Linked DNA regions of Homo sapiens. The protein of the gene in region 3 purifies or fractionates together with the protein of the main gene of each other region. This does not show direct contact. Each region holds a gene or a part of one and is shown on either strand. Other genes may lie near its edges.

What was found. The genes of interacting proteins can lie anywhere in the genome.
Region 1: the proteins of SGSM1 (region 3) and ABCB10 purify together in Homo sapiens (affinity purification with mass spectrometry; one large-scale study listed by BioGRID and IntAct). This does not show direct contact.
Region 2: the proteins of SGSM1 (region 3) and PDGFRL purify together in Homo sapiens (affinity purification with mass spectrometry; one large-scale study listed by BioGRID and IntAct). This does not show direct contact.
Region 4: the proteins of SGSM1 (region 3) and RANBP3 purify together in Homo sapiens (affinity purification with mass spectrometry; one large-scale study listed by BioGRID and IntAct). This does not show direct contact.

Annotation. Positions count from the first base shown.
Region 1 is NC_000001.11:229,541,708-229,545,207, reverse strand, and holds part of ABCB10 (ATP-binding cassette sub-family B member 10, mitochondrial), read left to right. Parts: intron 1-2,836; coding exon 2,837-2,971; intron 2,972-3,500.
Region 2 is NC_000008.11:17,636,216-17,639,715, forward strand, and holds part of PDGFRL (platelet-derived growth factor receptor-like protein precursor), read left to right. Parts: intron 1-3,500.
Region 3 is NC_000022.11:24,804,745-24,809,010, forward strand, and holds the start of SGSM1 (small G protein signaling modulator 1), read left to right. Parts: upstream 1-1,466; 5' UTR 1,467-1,581; coding exon 1,582-1,600; intron 1,601-1,696; coding exon 1,697-1,740; intron 1,741-4,266. UniProt on the Homo sapiens protein: Interacts with numerous Rab family members, functioning as Rab effector for some, and as GTPase activator for others. Promotes GTP hydrolysis by RAB34 and RAB36.
Region 4 is NC_000019.10:5,919,141-5,922,640, reverse strand, and holds part of RANBP3 (ran-binding protein 3), read left to right. Parts: intron 1-1,319; coding exon 1,320-1,440; intron 1,441-3,500. UniProt on the Homo sapiens protein: Acts as a cofactor for XPO1/CRM1-mediated nuclear export, perhaps as export complex scaffolding protein. Bound to XPO1/CRM1, stabilizes the XPO1/CRM1-cargo interaction. In the absence of Ran-bound GTP prevents binding of XPO1/CRM1 to the nuclear pore complex.

The sequences.
Region 1 (3,500 bases), on a different chromosome or scaffold from region 3:
GGGGATCAGGAAGAGTTCAAGCTGGGAAAAATCACTTGGGGTACTTTTTGTAACAAGGAAAGGGAATTCAGTGTAGGTCAGATGAGCAATTCAAAGGGGTCTGTTTGGGATGCCATAATAATACCACAGACTGGGTGGCTGAAACAACAGAAATGTATTTCTCACAATTCTGGAGGTTAGAAGTCCAGGGTCAAGGTGCTAGCAAAATAGTTTCATTCTGAGGCCTTTTCTTGTGGCTTGGCTGAAACAACAGAAATGTATTTCTCACAATTCTGGAGGTTAGAAGTCCAGGGTCAAGGTGCTAGCAAAATAGCTTCATTCTGAGGCCTTTTCTCTTGGCTGGTAGGCAGCTGCCATCTTGCCATGTGCTCACATAGTGGAGAGAGAGTGTGCTCTAGTGTCTCTTATAAGGACACTAATCCTATTGGATCATGGCCCCACACTTAACGACCTCATTTAACCTTAGTTACTTTCTTAGAGGCCCCATCTCCAAATACAGCCATGGTGGGGATTAAGGCTTCAACATGTGAATTTCAGGGGGAATTTCCATTCAGTCTGTAAAAGGGCCTCAGGAAGTGGCTTCACCTAGGATCTGATCTTTGGCTCTAGGGGATCAGAAATGTGACTTTGTTTCTCCTGCACAAACTCATGGACCTGACATAGGGGAAGTCCAGTTATGAGAACCTGATATTGTGTATGGCATACTGCCAATTTATTAATTTACATAGTGGGCCTACCCACCATTAAGTTGTGTTTCTGCTATTCCTTTTTTTTTTTTTTTTTTTTTTTTTGAGAGAAGGTCTCACCCTGTTGCCTAGGCTGTAGTGCAGTGGTGTCATCTTGGCTCACTGCAACCTCTGCCTCCCGAGCTCGAGTGATCCTCCCACGTCAGCCTCCTGAGTAGCTGGAACCACAGGCGTGCGCCACCATGCCCGGCTAATTTTTGTATTTTTTATAGAGACAGTGTCTCACCATGTTGCCCAGCCCACTGGTTTTGAACTCCTGGGCTCAAGCGATCCGCCTGCCTCAGCCTCCCGAAATGCTAGGATTACAGACGTGAGCCACTATGCCTAGCCCATTTCTGCTATTCAAAACACTTCATTATGGTGCCAGCACCCTGTATTAGTCATCAGAAGGTTTTTCATTAAGTGTGGAACCAGAGTGAAGGGAGGGGGGTGGTTCTGGACAGTTCTAGGAGAATCTTGATGGACTGTGCCTGCCCTACACAGAGGACACCTGTCCAGTTGGTTCATTTTGACATCAGTTGTGTTCAGGCCCCAGAAGTGTTAGACCTGCCCTGTTGGTCTCATGTCCTGATGGTGACCATCAGAGATATGATTATGTTCCCCAAGACTCACCCCAGGTGTCCTGATGGACTTGTCTTCTCAGGGTGGGACATTCCTATGCACATCTGCTTGCTCCTCTGTGAAGGTGCCAACCTCCTTTCTGCCTCAGGGCCTTTATGCAATGGCTCTTCCCTCTTGGGGGAGAGGTCTTCCAAGATTGTGTTACATCTGCAGTGATACTTTCTCTTTCTTTTACTTGTTTATTATCTAAGTCTCACCTCTTCTTTCTTGCATGAAAACTCTGTGAGGGTTGGTTATCTCCCAGGTGCCTGGAATAGTGCTTGCACTCAGTAACGTGGGCTCTCAGTAATAACTTGTTGAATGAGTAAATGAATGAGTGAATGATTGGTTGATCCATCCACTTATGTTTCAGTTTGCAGTTTTTCCTTAGTATTATTTAGCCGTGTACTGATTATACTATTTTCTGTGCAAATGAGATATGGTAGATTTTAGTAATTTGTCGAAGAGATGCCAGTACTATTGAAAGTACAATCACCAAATTGCAATGTTGACAGGAAAACCCTCTGTTACTTACTTCCAGAAGTTAGGTTATTCTTTCAGCAATTCCAATTGCTAGAAGCTCCTCAGTATATTGAGCCCAGATCCATCCTGCTGACTTCAGTCCACTGAGCCATAAAAGCAGCTCTAATTCTTCTTCGACTTGTTAGTTGTGTCCTCCAAGTCCTCTGTTGACTGTTATGCAATGTGCTGTTTTTTTTTTTTTTTTTTTTGAGATGGAGTTTTGCTCTTGTTGCCCAGGCGGAGTGCAGTGGCTCAATCTTGGCTCACTGCAACCTCCACCTCCCGGGTTCAAGCGATTCTCCTTCCTCAGCCTCCCGAGTAGCTGGGATTACAGGCACGTGCCCCAACACCCAGCTAATTTTTGTATTTTTAGTAGAGATGGGGTTTCACCACGTTGGTCAGGCTGGTCTCGAACTCCTGACCTCAGGTGATCTGCCCGCCTCGGCCTCCCAAAGTACTGAGATTACAGGCGTGAGCCACCACACCCCACCCGATAATGGGGTTTTTTGGTGACTTCACCATCTTGGTCATTTTGATGGGACGTGTTGCTGTGGTTGTTCAGTGCCTGCAGGTGGTTCAGACCTGAATATACAACTCCTGAGGTGGACTGGAGCGTGGAGCAGAATGGGCCTCTGCCAAACCCCCATCCTGTCTCTTCCCACTCTGTTGTTAAACCGCGTGGTCTGATCTAGTATTGGCCTGAGGATTCTTTCTTCAGCAATTTCTTGTCACATTTCTTCTATGTGGCATGCTGAATATTTATGGGGTTTTGTGAAGAATAAAGATGTCTGAAAAATTCCATCAAAACAGGATGTAACAACTTGGGGACAGTACCTTCAAGCCTGCTGTTAATTTAAACACACACACACACAGACACACCCACACACACACTCCCCTTTCGTAGGTAATGAGAATGTCTTGCCACCCAATGTAACAAACACCTCTGAATTTTTTTTTGTTTTTGACAGTTTTTTGTCTCACCTAATCTGGCCACCTTTGTTTTGAGCGTGGTGCCTCCAGTGTCAATCATTGCTGTAATTTATGGGCGATATCTACGGAAACTGACCAAAGTCACTCAGGATTCCCTGGCACAAGCCACTCAGGTAAAGGCCCCTTCCTGTCCGCGTGGTTTCCAGCAGAATGGGGTCATAGCCAGGATCCTAGAGGGCAGATCCTAAGGGATGTACTTAGGTTTTTCAATGAAGTGCCTGCCTTTCCTTTCATTAGAAATTACCCCAAGATCCATGAAACTTAAACTACTCTGTTTTCTAGACTAGATTTCTACCCATATCTCAAAGTAGATCTAACTTCACTAAACATTTTATGGAGTCCTCACTTGTTACTATCACTATTTCTTTTCTTTCTTTTTTTTTTTGTTTTTTTTTTTTGAGACAAGGTACATGAGAAAAGTTTTTTCATGCACTCTAGGCTGGAGCGCAGTGGTACAATCACAGCTTAGTGAAGCTTTAACCTCCCAGGCTCGAGTGATCTCCCACCTCAGCCTCCTTAGTAGCTGGGACTATCGCCCCATGCCACCATGCCCACTAATTTTTAAAATTTTTTGTAGAGACATGATCTTACTGTGTTGCCCAGGCTGGTTTCAAATTCCTGGGCTCAAGTAATCCTCCCACC
Region 2 (3,500 bases), on a different chromosome or scaffold from region 3:
CTGTTATCTTCTAGAATTTTTATGGTTTCAGGTCTTAGATTTAAGTATTTGATCCACCTTGAGTTGATTTTTGTATAAGGTGAAAGATAAGGATTCAGTCTTATTCATCATCTACATTTGGCTTGCCAATTATCCCAGCACCATTTGGTGAATAGGGTGTCCTTTCCCCATTTTATGCTTTTGTTTGCTTTGTCAAAGATCAGTGTAAGTATTTGGGTTTATTTCTGGGTTCTCTATTCTGTTCCACTGGTCTATGTGCTATTTTTATACCAGTACCATGCTGTTTTGGTGACTATGGCCTTATAGTATAGTTTGAAGTCAGGTAATGGGATGCCTCTAGATTTGTTTTTTTTTTTTGCTTAGTCTTGTTTTGGCTCTGCAGATTCTTTTTTGGTTCCACATGAATTTTAGGATTGTTTTTTCTAGTTCTGTGAAGAATGATGGTGGTGTTTTGGTGGGAATTGCATTGAATCTGTGGATTGCTTTTCGCAGTATGGTCATTTTCACAATATTGATTCTACCCATCCATGAGCATGCGATGTGTTTCCATTTGTTTGTGTCATCTATGATTTCTTTCAGCAGTGTTTTGTAGTTTTCCTTGCAGAGGTCTTTCACCTCCTTGATTAGGTATATTTCTGAGTATATATATTTTTTGCAGCTATTATAAAAGGGGTTGAGTTATTGATTTGATTCTCAGCTTGGTTGCTGTTGGTTTATAGCAGAGCTACTGATTTGTTTACATTAATTTTGTATCCTGAAACTTTGCTAAATTCATCTATCAGTTCTAGCAGCTTTTTGGAGGAGTCTTTAGGGTTTTCTAGGTATATGATTACATCATCAGCAAACAGCGACAGTTTGACTTCGCTTTATTGATTTGGATGCCCTTTATTTCTTTCTCTTGTCTGATTGCTCTGGCGAGGACTTCCAGTACTATGTTGAATGCAAGTGGGCATCCTTGTCTTGTTGCAGTTCTCAGGGGAAATGCTTTCAACTTTTTCCCATTCAGTATAGACAGTTTTCATTACCTTAAGGTATGTCCCTTCTATGCCAATTTTGCTGAGGGTTTTAATCATAAAGGGATGCTGGATTTTGTCAAATGTTTTTTGTGTGTCTGTTGAGATGATCATGTGATTTTTTGTTTTTAATTCTATGTGGTGTATCCCATTAATGTCTTGTGTATGTTAAACCACCCCAGTATGAAACCCATTTGATCATGGTGGACTATCTATTTGATATGCTGTTGGATTTGGTTAGCTAGTATTTTGTTAAGGATTTTTGCATCTATATTCATCAAACATGTTGGTCTATAGTTTTCTCTTTTTTGTTATGTCCTTTCCTGGTTTTGGTATTAGGGTGATACTGGCTTCACAGAATGATTTAGGGAGGATTCCTTCTTTCTCTGTCTTGTGAAATAATGTTGATAGGATTGATACCAGTTCTTAGAATGTCTGATAGAATTCATTTGTGAATCCATCTGATTCTGGGCTTATTTTTGTTGGCAGTTTTTTAAATTACCATTTCAATCTCACTGCTTGTTATTGGTCTGTTCAGAGTTTCTCTTTCTTCCTGGTTTAATCTAGGAGGGTGGTATAATTCCAGGAATTTATCCATCTCTTCTAGGTTTTCTAGCTTGAGTATGTAAAGCTGTTCACAGTAGCCTTGAATTATCTTTTGTATTTCTGTGGTATTGGTTGTAATATCTTGTTTCATTTCTAACTGAAGCTTATTTGGATCTTCTTGGTTAATTTTGTTAATAGTCTATCAGTTTTATTTATCTTTTCAAAGAATCAGCTTTTTGTTTATCTTTTGTATTTTTTTGGTTCAATTTCATTCAGTTCTGCTCAGATCTTTATTTCTTTTGTTCTGCTATGTTTGGGTTTGGTTTGTTCTGGTTTTTCCAGTCCTTGAGGTGTGACCTTAGATTGTCTATTTGTGCTCTTTCAGACTTTTTGATGTAGTCATTTAATGCTATGAACTTTCCTCTTAGCACTGCCTTTGCTGTATACCAGAGGTTTTGATAGGTTGTGCTACTATTTTCATTCAGTTCAAATAATTTTTTAACTTCCATCGTGATTTCATTCTTGACCCAGTGATCATTCAGGAGCAGGTTATTTAATTTCCATGTGTTTGTATGTTTTGAGGGTTGCTTTTGGAATTGAGTTCCAATTTTATTCCACCGTGGTCTGAGAGAGTACTTGATATAATTTCAGTTTTCTTAAATTTATTGAAACTTGTTTTGTGGCTTATGATATGGTCTCTCTTGGAGAATGTTCCATGTGCTGATGAATAGAATGTATATTCTGCAGTTGTTGGGTCGAATGTTCTACAAATAGCCCTTAAGTCCATTTGTTCTAGGTTATAGTTTAAATCCATTGTTTCTTTGTTGATGTTCTGTCTTGATTACCTATCTATTGCTGACAGTGGAGTATTGAAGTTCCCCACTATTACTGTGTTGCAGTCTATCTCATTTCTTAGGTGTAACAGTAATTGTTTTATAAATTTGGGAGCTCTGGCATTAGGTGCATATATATATATATATATATATATATATATATATATATATATATATATAATTGTGATATTTTCCTGTTGGGCAAGTCCTTTTATCATTACATAATGTCCGTCTTTCTCTTTTTTAACTGCTGTTTCTTTAACGTTTGTTCTGTCTGATATAAGAACAGCTACTCCTCTATAAGACAGGCCTGCACCTGTAATCCCAGCTACTAAGGAGGCTGAGGCACAAGAATCACTTGAACCTGGGAGGTGGAGGTTGCATTGAGCCAAGATTGAGCCATTGCACTCCAGTCTGGCCGACAGAGTGAGACTCTGTCTCAAACAAAACAAAACAAACAAAAAGAATAGCTACTCCTGCTCACTTTGGTGTCCCTTTGCATGGAATATCTTTTCCCAGCCCTTTACCATAAGTTTATGTTAGTCCTATTTGTTAGGTGAGTCTCTTCAAAACAGCAGATACTTGGTTGGTGACTTCTTACCCATTCTGCCATTCTGAATCTTTTAAATGGAGCATTTAGGCCATTTACATTCAACATTAGTATTCAGATGTGAGGTACTATTCTATTCATCTTGCTATTTGTTGCCCGAATACCTTGGTTTTTATTTATTTATTTATTTATTGTGTTTTTGTTTTATAGGTCCTATGAGATTTATGCTTTAAGAAGGTTCTATTTTGGTGTATTTCAAGGATTTGTTTCAATATTTAGTGCTCCTTTTAGCATTTCTTACAGTGCTGGGTTTGTAGTGGCGAATTTTCTCAGCATTTGTTTGTCTGAAAAAGACTGTATCTCTCCTTCATTTATGAAGCTTAGTTTTGCTGTACACAAAATTCTTAGATGATGATTCTTTTGTTTAAGGAGGCTGAAGGTAGGGCCTCAATTTCTTCTAGCTTGTAGGGTTTCTGCTGAGGAATCTGCTGTTAATCTGACATGTTTTCCTTTATAAGTTATCTGGTGCTTTTGCCTCACAGCTCTTAAGATTCTTTC
Region 3 (4,266 bases):
CACCTGCTCAGTGGGGCCTCCCTCAACCACCCTACTTCAGAATACGATCCCCAGGGGTCTGGGCCCTCCCTGTCCCCCTTGCCTACTTAATTTTTCTCCAGAACTTTCCAGCATGGTCTGTCCTTTTCTTACATATTTTGTTGTCCGCCTCCTAAACTCCATGAGGGCAGAGTTCATTGTCTGTCTTGCTCACTTAGAAATCTCTAGCACAGTCACTTGGCACAGAGTAGGTGCTCAATAAATATTGACCTGAGTTGCATTCTGGGTGGATACAGTTAGGGACTTGGGGTGACCAGGGGCTCTTGATGGAACAAGGCTTTTCCCACAGAGCCCACTGCTTGCTCAGCCCCAGAGATCCTGGCTGACAAGTGCCTCCTTTTGGGGCCAGACTCCTGGGAAAACCCCACTCCTCCAGTGACCTGCATGTCGGGGAGGGAGCCACTTAAGTCCCGGCCTCTCCTGAATGGATAACCAGTGTATCTTGGAAGACTCTTTTTTTTTTTTTTTTTTTTGAGATGGAGTTTCACTTTTGTTGCCCAGGCTGGAGTGTGGTGGCACAATCTTGGCTCACTGACACCTCTGCCTCCAGGGTTCAAGCAATTCTCATGCCTCAGCCTCCTGAGTAGCTGGGATTACAGGAGCACGCCACCATGCCTGGCTAATTTTTGTATTTGTATTTTTTTTATTTTTTGAGACGGAGTCTCACTCTGTCGCTCAGGCTGGAGTGCAATGGCGCCATGTTGGATCACTGTAACCTCTGCTTCCCGGGTTCAAGAGATTCTCCTGCCTTAGCCTCCCCAGTAGCTGGGATTACAGGCAGCTCGCCATCATGTCCGGCTAATTTTTGTATTTTCGTAGAGACGGGGTTTCACTATGTTGGCCAGGCTGGTCTCGAACTCCTGACCTCAAGTGATCTGCCCGCCTCGGCCTCCCAAAGTGTTGGGATTACAGGCGTGAGCCACCGCGACCGGCTGGAAGACCCTCAATAATAATAATTAATAATAATAACAGTAACAGTGGCAAGCATTTATGCTCGCTGGCCTTTCCCCCTGGGTCTGTATTAAGGGCTTCACATCCAATATCTCACTTAAGGCTCAGATCGTTCTGAGACCCATTATGCCCATTTTATACCACATTATACCCATTTTAAAGATGAGAAAACTGAGGCTTGGAGAATATCGGTAGTAGCCCCACCATTTCCTGTGACTTCCTGGAGCCTGGCCCACAGAGGAGGGTTCAGGACGGACGCTTTCCTTCCCCGCCCTAGGGAAGAGGGAGGGACGCGGGCGCTGGCGTGGAGGTTGGGGGAGCCTGAGAGGCTCGGGCGCTGGGTGCGCGGGAGGGAGCGTGCGTGCTTGGCGCGAAGGCTCCTGGCGCAGGCGACCCGGCTGCCCCGCCGAGCGGTGGCTTTCCGGAGGGGTGGGGCGGCCGCCTCGGGTCCTGACGTCGGGCGCCCTCCGGCCGTCACTCAGCGCTCGGCCCCGCCCCGCCGCGGCTGCAGCAGCAGCGCCGCGGCCGGAGGAGCTACCGCCGCCACCGCCGCCACCGCCTCCTGGGACTCGGAACGCAGCGCTCGGAGCCATGGCCTCGGCCCCCGCGGGTAAGAGGCCGCTGGACACGAGGGCGGCGGGAGGGCAGCGCCCGGCCCCCGCACCCTCTCTCGGCTGACCCGCGGCTCTCGTTTCTTGTCCCACAGAGGCGGAGACCCGACAGAGGCTGCTACGCACCGTCAAGAAGGAGGTGGGTGCCGGGGTGGGGGCACTGGGCAGGACTCCCCCGGCAGCAGCGGCCAAACGGGAAAAGAGTCTTCGTGGAAGGGTGGCCTCTGGCGGCGGGGGGGCGGCCAGAACAGGTGTGGGGCTCACCTGGGTGGGCATTGACCTCCCGCAGGGCAGGAGGCGCAGCGAGGGAGTTTGGGGGTGGGCGTAGGTGTGGGGAGGCTTTGGCCCATTTGAGGCTTTTTGCGGGGGCGGATGTAGCGTGAGGGCCCTCCAGGTGTGGGGCACACCTGGATGTATCCCGATAGGACCTCCTCTTGTGGAGGAGCAGGTGGGCGCGGCTCAGGAAGGGGACCTTCCAAGAGAGAGAAGCTGCTAGGGGGACGCCCCCCACAGGGTGTGCTGGAGGAGGGGCTCTGAATGGGGCTGCCGAAGGTGGGGCACGCTTCAGGAAAAGGCAGAAGGAAAATAAAACCTCCCTTCCCAGCCCCCGAATTCTCAGTCCTTGGAGCCACCTCCAAGAGCCAGGGGACTCCCTCCCTGAGAGTCACGGGTCAGTGAGCTGCTCCCCTGGCAGTAGGGGTCCCTTCACTCCCCCCGCCCCACTCCCACCCCACATTCAGAGGGTGAGAATCAGAGAGGTTCTGCCATTCCTCTGCCCCTCCACTCTCCTTGGGGTCAGCGCGTGGAGAGGGGGGCAGTCTAGTCTTTAGGGCTCATGGCCAATGACCTCCCAGAACCCCATAGACAGAATTTATAGTCCTTGGGGTAGCATCTCGATGCCTGGACTGCGTGCTCTGGTGTGTATACCTGCATGGGTGAGGACCTGTGGCTGTGAGTGTGTGCGTATGAGAATGTCTGTGCATCTGTCTGGAGATACCTAAGTGTATCTCTTTGCACTGTGTGTACACGTATCTATGTGTGTCTTTGTATCTGTTTTTGTGAGGGTGGGTCTGTGTGTGTATATTGTGTGGTGCATGAGTCTGTGAATGAGTGATGCTGTGAGTGTGTGTGTGTATCTTGAGTAGGTGTGTGGCATGTGATGCATGAGTCTGCATGAATAACTAGGGCTGTGACTCCGTCTGTGTGCGTGTGTCTTGTGTGTTGCCCTCCCCATTCTTCAGTCTCAGACCCCATTGCTGCTGTGTCTTCATCACTTTTGAACCTTATCAGCGCTTAGCCCAAGGCCTTGCATGGCAGCAGACATCGTGGGCTGGCCTGGTTTCTGGGCCTGGCTTTCAGTGTGTGTGTGTGTACATGCGTGCATGTGTGTGTATGTGTTGGGGGTGTTGGCTGAGGTGGCAGCATCAAGCATCACTGATGACCCCTCCTTCCCTGCACAGTGGCAGACAGCCACCAAGGGCAGCCTCGAGGCTTGGACCTGTTGCTGCTCCTCCGTCCTCCGGGAGCATGAGTATGTGCCTGCGTGTGTGTGTGTGTGTGTGTGTGTCTCTGTGTGTGGCATGTCCTATTTTGTTTAAAGAATGAGCTCCAGGGCTGCTTGCACATTCTAGCATTTTCGAATGAGACATGCAAAATACATTGGATCCCTCAGAAAGGCCCAGAAGTTTTCAGCTCAGCCCTTGTATAGACTCCTGTGGGTATTCCAAGGGAGATCCATCTAGAACCTCTTATCTTTTTTTTTTCTTGGTGTTTTTTTTTTTTTTTTGAGACGGAGTCTCGCTCTGTTGCCCAGGATAGAGTACAGTGGCACAGTCTCCACTCACTAAAAACTCCACCTCCTGGGTTCACGCCATTCTCCTGCCTCAGCCTCCCAAGTAGCTGAGACTACAGGAGCCACCATGTCCGGCTAATTTTTTATTTTTTTATTTTTAGTAGAGACGGGGTTTCACCACGTTAGCCAGGATGGTCTCGATCTCCTGACCTCGTGATCGCCTGCCTCGGCCTCCCAAAGTGCTGGAATTACAGGCGTGAGCCACTGCTCCCAGCCTAGAACCTCTTTTCAATAGAACTCACAGACCAACAACATCCTTGTCACTTTCAGTGGAGGGGCATGTACCTTACAAAGCACCTGCTGTCTTTTTGTTCGTGGTTTAACCAGACCTACGTGTAATATGTGTCCCTGAGATGTTTTTGCCTGGGGTAGCTTTGTTTTTAAGGCAATGGTTGGTTGAATGGGGAGGGGGCTGCAGGCAGAAGAGAACACCAGTAAGACATCTGGGGAAGGCTCTGGCTGAGGCCCAGGTCCCAGCTCAGCTACCATCTTCCTCAGTTTCCTGCGCAGGTTCCTTCTTCTCTCTAGGAGTCAGTTTCTCCATCTGCAGAAGGATGCATTAGTATCAGTGTCCTCTAAGGTCTGACCCGTGTCAGTCTAGTTTGGGTCTTGGGCTCAAAGAGGGGGAATAACTTGCCCAAGAGCACACAGCCAAGATGGGACAGAGTTGGGACTTACCCCCCAGGTCTTTTTGATGTCAGAGCCACACTCTGACCCTCCCATCCCACAAACATGCTCATCCAAATCTACACGGTGCCACACCTTGGACAGAATGTGTGGGCAGTACAGTTTCTACTGTACAGATGAGAACAC
Region 4 (3,500 bases), on a different chromosome or scaffold from region 3:
TTCAGGGAATGACAAAGACTGTCATACCAAACATATTCTCTTGTCGCCCAGAGCTGGCAACTGTATTATTTGTCACCTGGCATCCTGTGGTGTCTTCGTAGGGAAAAGATCAGGTGCGGCCAGAGGTTCCACCCCACCGTCCCCTCCTGGCATCCCCCATTCCTGCTCCTCAGGCCGCACCACCCGGCTTGGGCAGCATCCATGTGCTTCCTCTCCCGTGGCACATAAGCAGGTGTCTGTGTCTGTAAACCGGGTGGCGTATCGTGGCGTTCTTAAGAGCACTGTTCTTTTTTCCCACTTACCACTTTGTCATCTGTTCATGTTGAAAGAGATTGACTTAGGGGGTATGTGGAAAGCCATGTAGGGGTGTCTGTCTCGTATTTTTCTTTGTTTATATATACAAAACTGCTGTATTGAAATATAGTACAAATGCTATATAATCCATCCTTTTAAAGCATACAATTCCGTGGTTTCTAGTATATTCACAGAGTCAGACAACTTTCACCAGAATCTAACGTACAACATTTCTGCCCCCAAAAAGAACACTGTCCCATTCCCCCAGAAAGAGCATTGTCCATTCGCAGTAACTCCTCCTCCCTCCCCAGCCCCTGGCAGCCACAGATCCACTTCCTGTCTCTGTTTTTTGCCTGTCCTTGACATTTCATATAAATGGCATCAACGCACTATGTGGCCTTTCGTGTCTGGCTTCTCTCGCTGAGCCAGAGGTTCATCCACGTTGCAGCGGGGGTCGGAGCCTTGTTCTTTATTAAGACTGAGTGAGATGCGCTGTAGGGGCGGACCATGTGTGTCACTCCATTCCTCCTTGAGACTTGGCTACCGTGAATGATGGTGCTGTGCACGTTCATGTGCGATCTGTGTGTGAACACGAACAAATGTTCCATTTCTCTTGGGTACATACCGAGGAATGGAATTGCTTGGGCATGTGGTAATTCCTTGTTAAGCAGTTTGAGGAGCCGCCAGACTCTTCCACAGCAGTGGCACCATGCGGCCTTCCCGCCAGCAGTGTGTGAGGGTTCCAGCTTCCCCACATGGGTATAGCCGTCCTAGAGTGCGCAGAGAGGCTTCTCACCGTTGTTTTGCTTTTCATTTCCTTAGTGATTCTTTTAATTTCAGATACCCCTTATACAATGTAAAGCCTGTTCTAGCTTGAGGGCAGGACAAAAAACTGACCAAGGTGGCCCCCAGGCCGTCGTTGGCTGGCCCTGGCAGTCCCCACAGGCTAAAGGGCGACTCTCAGGGTGTGGCTGCAGCAGGACACCAGCTGGGGTCCCTGCTTACCGGCGGCCACTGTGTTCCAGATGCAGTGCAAGCTGTTTGTCTTTGACAAGACCTCACAGTCCTGGGTGGAGAGAGGCCGGGGGCTGCTCAGACTCAATGACATGGCGTCCACCGATGACGGCACACTACAGTCCCGACTAGGTGAGCTGCCGACGGCGGGGGCTGTGGCCGGGTCCCCATGGGGAGGGCTGGGGACTATGCAATTCCAAAGGGAATGAAGCGGGGGAGATCCTGACCCTACCCTTGTGAGAGTCAAGGCACAGAGTCGGTCTCCCATGAGAGCCGCCCCCCAAACCCCCTCCCTGCACCCAGCCCTCAACACCACCCTCACACACTGGCTCCAGCTGCCAGCTCGTCCGTGACCCTCTTAGTGTCAAAATGGACAAAAGTCTATGGAAGTTTTTAAGCTGATTTTCTGACAAAGTGGCAGGTTTATGATAGAAAGGAAAATGAAATCAAACATCAAGTCTAATCTCTTGATAAAGACAAATTTTGGCCAGGCGCAGTGGCTCACGCCTGTAACCCCAGCACTTTGGGAGGCCAAGGTGGGCGGATCACCTGAGGTCAGGAGTTCAAGACCAGCCTGGCCAACATGGCAAAACCCTGTCTCTACTAAAAATACAAAAATTAGCCGGGCATGGTGATACATGTCTGTAATCCCAGCTACTCGGGAGGCTGAGGCAGGAGAATTGCGTGAACTTGGGAGACGGAGATTGCAGTGAGCCGAGATTGAGCCACTGCACTCCAGCCTGGGCGACAGACCAAGACTCCATCTCAAAAAAAAATAAAATATACTGTTTTTGAAAAGCTTTCATGTTAATATTCCATTGACAGTCAATGGACTTTTCCCTATTGGTGGACATTTAGCTTGGAGTACCTGCATACACACACCCACTTAAGGAAATCAGCCTGTGTGTGTGCACATTTGAAATGTGGGCGTGTCTTTTTTTTCCTTCTAAAGCTGATTTCACTCCATCACCCAGGCTGGAATACAGTGTGATCATCGCCTCAAATTCCTGGGCTCAAGTGATCCTCCCACCTCAGCCTCCTGAGTAGCTGGGACTACAGATGCACCACCACGTCTGGCTAATGTTTTTATTTTTGTCTTTATAAAGACAGGTCTCCCTGTGTTGCCCAGGCTGGTCTTGAGCTCCTGGCATCAAACAGTCCTCCCACCTCAGCCTCCCAAAGCGCTGGAATTACAGGCGTGGGCCACTGCGCTGGGACCATCTTTTTGTTTTATCTTCCCAAATCAAAGTGTCTTCTGGCCTTTTCATAAATATGGGTTTCAGGCCCAGCAGTAACTCAAGCAGCCCCCTTGAAGGGTAGTGTTCATGCACTTCAATCAGAAACACTGCTCTGGTCAGAACAGACAGGGGATGTCCCTGCAGGCTGGGACTGCTCTTTTGTTCCCCATGGACGTCTTTTTTTTTTTTTTTTGAGACGGAGTTTTGCCCTTGTTGCCCAGTCTGGAGTGCAGTGGCTTCGTTTCGGCCCACCGCAGCCTCCACCTCCCAGGTTCACGCGATTCTCCTGCCTCGGCCTCCCGAGCAGCTGGGCTTATAGGCACCCGCCACCAAGCCTGGCTAATTTTTTTATACTTTAAGTAGAGACAGGGTTTCTCCACATTGGTCAGGCTTGTCTCGAACTCCTGACCTCAGGTGATCTGCCCACCTAGGCCTCCCAAAGTCCTGGAATTACAGGCTTGAGCCACTGTGCCCAGCCTTATGGACGTCTTCTTGTGTTTTTCCTTTTGTCTCGTGGAAATGTTCAAATGTCCATGGAAAGAGAGGGCATAGAGCCCTGAGCCCCCAGGTCATCCCCTCTGCCTGGGTCATCAGCCTGTAGCCCCGTGGCAGCAGTACCCTCCCCAGCTTCAGGGAGAGCAAAATCACCTCTGTCTTTCTCCCACTCGGCCTCTGAGGTGGGCACCTGGGCTCAGGGAGGTCTGTTCGCTGGGCCAGGGCAGGGGGACAAGTTTCTGACCGTCTCCAGGCCTGCTCCAGTGGGGAGAGGCGGCTGGCAGGAAGGTAGGGGCTTGGCTGAGTCCACGGGGTGGGCCCAGGCCAGGCGCAGGGGTGTTGCATCCTCTAGAAGAGTCAGGGCCCTCCCATTTTCCTCCGTAATCTGCTGCCCACAGTCCTCTCGTCTCCTCTCCATGGAAGCGCTAAGCTGCGGTCCTACTCTGCCTTCTCCTAAGG